Linked DNA regions of Homo sapiens: region 1 is linked to region 2. Evidence: fine-mapped QTL for protein levels in blood plasma. A gene starts in region 2. The other region holds a variant in brackets. All regions are shown on one strand. Distances are from middle to middle.

Evidence for each region. PIP is the chance, under the fine-mapping model, that this variant and not a neighbour inherited with it causes the effect. The UK Biobank Pharma Proteomics Project read protein levels with antibody pairs (Olink). The fine-mapping took linkage between variants from a reference panel, not from the people measured, so its PIPs are less certain.
Region 1: its variant is fine-mapped to the plasma level of the GDF15 protein (UK Biobank, PIP above 0.99).

What each region holds. Positions count from the first base shown.
Region 1 is chr19:18,366,852-18,369,351 of GRCh38, reverse strand. It overlaps PGPEP1 (pyroglutamyl-peptidase I), which reads right to left. Exons shown (of 5, transcript NM_017712.4): 5 at 1-2,500. Among named protein-coding and RNA genes, the nearest start is that of GDF15, 18 kb to the left of the region's middle. The variant T/C (reference allele first, on the strand shown) is at 1,143.
Region 2 is chr19:18,384,903-18,387,917 of GRCh38, reverse strand. GDF15 (growth differentiation factor 15) reads right to left here and starts at 1,760. Exons shown (of 2, transcript NM_004864.4): 1 at 1,452-1,760. The coding sequence starts at 1,728. It overlaps MIR3189 (microRNA 3189), which reads right to left and starts at 1,356; the gene lies at 1,284-1,356. RefSeq lists enhancers at 1,636-1,805, 1,394-2,216.

The sequences.
Region 1 (2,500 bases), 18 kb after region 2:
CAGGCACTTCTGTGGGTAACTGGGGGAGGCACAGCGGGGAGAAAGAGCAGGAGGAGAAAGGGAATTTGGGGGAGGGGGAGCAGTTTGGGGTGGGACTGGGTCCCTCAAGTCCTGGGAGTCCCCCCCCACTCAGCTTGTGACAACTGTCCTGGAAACCAGGGGACAGAGTCTCTCAGCAGGTATGTTCAGCGTCCACCCGGGAATTAGCTTTCCAGACGTGGGCACTGGGCAGCGCCTGCCCCTCAACAGCCATTCTGCCAAGGGTCTAAGTGGAACCCCAGCCCTCGGCCGGCCTCCTCACTGCAAAAACGGGGATGCTTTCCCTCCCAACCAGCAGCCCCGGGCCCTCATGAGGCACTTGTGCCCAGGGAAGGGAAATTTAATCCGGATTATAAAAACAAAGCCCTCTCCTGCCCCCTCAAGTTAGGATGCTGAGGATGGGTGGCTGCATGGGGCAACCTGGCAAAGACCTGCCTCCTTGACCATGATCAGCACCCCATGCTGGCCGTCACGCAGCTCCCAGAGGCCTCAGGATAGAGGCTGGGGCTGCGGAGAATAGGGCTTTGTCCAGCTGTCTCCAAAAGGGACGTCTAGGTTCAGACGCCACAAGAGGCAGAGAGGTCAAAGGCCAACAGTCTAGACAGTGGCAGCCAAAAGGGGGCCAGCTGTGCGGGACAGATTTCCATGAGCCATCCCCCTCCACCTGGTCACCTCCCCAGGGCACTGGAGTGCAGGTGTAAACATACCAGCTGGTCTTGCTTCCTGGAAGAAACTTCCAAGACTAAAAGGCATCTTGAATCTACTTTTCCAGCTCTCCCATCTGCCCCAGAGTGGATACTTTCTGTTCTAGATGTTTCTATGCCAGCAACGAGCAGAAAAGCAGAGCAGGGAATTCTTTTTTTTTTTTTTTTTTGTGACAGAGTCTTGCTATGTTGCCCAGTCTGGAATGCAGTGGCGTGATCTCACACCACTGCAACCTCTGCCTCCCAGGTTCAAGCAATTCTCCTGTCTCAGCCTCCCAGGTAGCTGGGATTACAGGCACGCACCATCCACTCTTGACTAATTTTTGTATTTTTAGTAGAGATGGGGTTTTGCTATGTTGGCCAGGCTGGTCGCAAACTCCTGGCCTCAAGCGATCAGTC[T/C]GCCTTGGCCTCCCAAAGTGCTGGGATAACAGGCATAAGCCACTGCGCCTGGCCCCCCTTTTTTTTTTCTTAATTTTGAGGCAGGGTCTTGCTCTGTTGCCCAGGCTGGGGTACAGTAGTGTAATCATGGCTCATTGCAGCCTTCACCTCCTGGGCTCAGATAAGCCTCCCAACTCAGCCTCCCAAGTAGCTGGGACTACAGGTGCTTGACACCACAACTGGCTAATTTTTTTTTTTAATTTCTGTAGAGATGGGGTCTCGCCATGTTGCCCAGGGCTGGTCTCGAACTCCCGGGCTCAAGCAATCCTCCCACCTCAGCCTCCCAAAGCACTGGGATCACAGACATGAACCATCTCCAGGATTCCCCTCCTTGCCGAGAAACTACTGCCATCTGGGACATTTCCTTCACACATCTGGCTCTGATGGGGAAGCTGTGATTTCGGCCCCCACCCCCTGTCCCTGCCCAGCCCTGCCTCTCCAAGTGGCCTCAGGTTTGTTCCAGCCCTTGATTGGAGCAGGTGGGCTAGGTGGCCCCAAGCTCAGCCCACCCACCTTGAATTCCTGCTTCTTCCTTTCTTTCCTTTCCACTCCATCTTATTTCTTTTTTGAGCTACATCCCCACACGCATGCAACTGACCTTCTTTGGGGTGGGGAGGGGGTGCTAGGGGCCGAATAAAGGAATAAAAGTGCGCAGACTTGGGCATCTTAAAAGAGATGCCATCATCAAGTTGGTCAGGGTACCAGGTGCCCTGATCACTGTCCCTGCACCCCTGTTCCCTGCCTCAGCACCCTCCATGAGGACTCATCAGGGAAGCCCCCCCAATCACTTCTCACCTTTCTCCCCCAGCCTTCCCACCACACCCCTCAGCCTGTCTTTTCACCATTGACACTTGCCACCCCTATTCCTCTTCCCAACACCTGCCAAGTCCCACCCACCTTGCAGACCCTTCCTATGCCACCTGTAGCCCCTACCCCAGGCTCTGAAAATGAGGCAAGAGGGAATGGGACTTGGTCCTTCCCTTCTTGCATGAGGATTTTTTTTTTTTTTTTTTTTGAGACAGAGTCTTGCTGTGTCACCCGGGCTGGACTACAGTGGTGTGATCATGGCTCACTGGGGCTTCAACCTCCCAGGCATAGGTGATCCTCCTGCCTCAGCCTCCTGAGTATCTGGGACCACAGGCATGCACCACCACATCTGGCTAATTCTTGTATGTTTTGGTAGATATGGGATCTCTTGCTATGTTGCCCAGGCTGGTCTTGAACTCCTGGCTCAAGGGATTCTCCTGCCTCAACCTCCCAAAGTGCTAGGATTACAGGTGTGAGTAACCACACCTAGCCCACATGAGGATATTTTAAGC
Region 2 (3,015 bases):
TCGGGGCGGTGGAGGTTGCAGTGAGCCAAGATCGTGCCACTGCACTCCAGCCTGGGCAACAGAGGAAGACTCCCTCTCAAAAAAAAAAAAAAAAAAAAAAAAAAGGGCATTTCTCCCCTTGAATCTCCTGAATCTCAGTATGGCTGGCTCCTCCTCTTCCTTCCAGCCTGCCTAAAATAGGAAGCACCCTATTTTATTTCCTTGTGTATCATTCATATTCCCTACTTAGAATCTTAGCTTGGTTGACACTGTGCCTGGCACACAATAGGTGCTTAGTAAATACTTGAAGGAATTAATGTATATCTGATATTCAGGCAGCCTGAGATTCCAACCATGGCTCTGCTTTTCTTCTGGCAGTCAAAAACTTACTTGCTTCACTTATTTATTTATTTATTATGGTCTTGCTGTTACCCAGGCTGGAGTGCAGTGGGGCACTCATGGCTCAGTGCAGCCTCAATCTCCTGGATTCAAGTGCTCCTCCCGCCTCAGCCTCCTGAATAACTGAGACTACAGGCACACACCATCATGTCTGGCTAATTTTTTTTAAACATTTTTGGTAGAGATGGATTCTCGCTATACTGCCCAGGCTGCAATGTTCTGGCCTAAAGCGATGCTCCCACCTTGGCCTCCTAAAGTGCTGGGATTACAGGTGTAATCCCGAGAAATGAAGAGTGCCAAACCCATCACATTCCAGACTACTGAGCCTCTAGGAATCACAGCCCCTCAGGCTGGTACAAGTGTTAGGGAGACTGGGGAGACTGGGGTTTGAGGGTGCCTTAACCTAGTTGCTAGGCTTAGCAAGGGTGAGAGGTTTGCCGGAGTCACACGGCACAGATGGGTTTAGGGCGGGCTAAGAGTGTGCCCCTCTGCCTGCCCCCTCCTGGGTCCCACCACAGCCCAGACCTCATCCAGTGCCCTGCACCCCTGGAGCCTCCATGGAGGGCACAGAGATGGGGAAAATACTCTCCTCCTCCCCTAACAAGTCGCTCGTTGCATGTGACTTTAGCAGTGCCTTGACAAGCGATTTCATCAGATTCAGAACCAGCTCCAGCTGGCTCTGCCCATCACAAACTTCTATCCATGCACCACACCCCCATTGTTTCTCTTGGATCCTGGCCCCAGCCCAGGTCAGGGACCATGCCCACACCGCACGCCCGACCCCGTCCCCGGGTTTCCCAGGTGCTGTGCACATTCAGGAGGGTCCCTGGCATCCCTGTACCTCAGTTTCCCCATTTGCAACTTGGGGACAGGTTATAACCTCCCACGTTGTGGGTGCAAATCAGGCATCGGCTACCCCATCAGACCCAAGGGGATCCAGGATATTCCTACCCAGGGCACAGATGGGGCAACTGAGGCTCAAAGGTAGGTCTGGGCTTTTCAAGATGAGGAATCCCTGATTAGATATGGGGGCTGCTTGGGGGGTGGGAGGGGATCTCTAAGATTTCACTTACCTTCTGGCGTGAGTATCCGGACTGCAGGGGCCGGGACGAGGTCGGTGTTCGAATCTTCCCAGCTCTGGTTGGCCCGCAGCCTGGTTAGCAGGTCCTCGTAGCGTTTCCGCAACTCTCGGAATCTGGAGTCTTCGGAGTGCAACTCTGAGGGTCCCGGGAAACTTGCGCGGCTCGCCTCGGCCAGAGACAGGGCGCCCCCATGCGGCAGCCACGAGAGCACCAGCAACACCAGGAGCATCTGAGAGCCATTCACCGTCCTGAGTTCTTGCCCGGGCATGGCTGTGCAGGTTGCGGCTCTGAGCTGGGACTGACCAGATGCTGCCGGACCGGCCTTTATAGTCCCCGGACTTTGTCCGTCTCCGCCTGCTCAGTCCCGCCCTCCTCCCCCTGCCTGCAGAGTAAACACTCCAATGACCACAGCTGGGCGGGGTCTGGGGGTGTATTTAGGGGGAGGATCTTTAGGTGGGGGCGCTCCTAGTAAAGCTAGGGCACATTTCTGGGCCTCAGTATCCTCTTCCTCGATATGAGGACACCATTCCAGCCTGGGAGTCTTTTTGGAGGAAAAAAAGACATTGTTACTATGTGAAAAATTCCAGACAAGAGTTTAAGAGGTGGCTGTCTATGCCCATGGGATTTCCTCTCTTCTCTTTTTGGTTGGGGTCAAAGGCTAAAGATGGTGAAAAACAAAGGAAGCAGAGGAGAACGGGCTAGATGGAGCCAGGAAGGGCAACCTTGATGTGTCATGCCTCTCTGCCATGCCTGTTTCCTCACCAGGAAAAAAAGGACTGAGACTCTCACTGGAGAGGTGGTCAAATGAGGGGTAAAGCACAGGGCCAGACACATAGGAGGCACTTGATAAACTGGGTGTTATTGCAGTTACTCATCCTCCTCTGGAGAACTCCTACTCATTCTTCAAAACTCTACGCAAAAAGCCCCTCTTCCAGGAAGTCTTCTCCAACATTATCTTTCCAGTCTAAGCAGGGTGCTCCCAAACCCCATCCTTTTGTCTGGCTCAGCGCTCACCTTGAAGCCATCCTCACAGGATTCATAATTCTGGGGGCCAGGCATGGTGGCTTATGTCAGTAATCTCAGCACTTTGGGAGGCCGAGGTGGGTGGATTGTTTGAGCCCAGGAGTTCGAGACAAGTCTGGGCAAGATGGCAATACCTCATCTCTAAAAAAAAGAATTCTGCGCCGGGCACGGTGGCTCTCGCCTGTAATCCCAGCACTTTGGGAGGCCGAGGCACGTGGATCATCTGACGTCAAGAGTTCTAGACTAGCCTGACCAACATGGAGAAACCCTGTCTCTACTAAATATACAAAATTAGCTGGGCTTGGTGGTGGGATTACATGCCTGTAATCCCAGCTACTCGAGAGGCTGAAGCAAGAGAATCGCTTGAACCCAGAGGGCGGAGGTTGCAGTGAGCCAAGTTTTCACCATTGCACTTCCGCCTGATCAACAAGAGCAAAACTCTGTCTCAAAAAAAAAGAATTCTGGACAGAAACTTAGTTATAATTAAGCACTAATCAGGCTGCACTTTGACCCACTTCCTTGTGACCGCAAG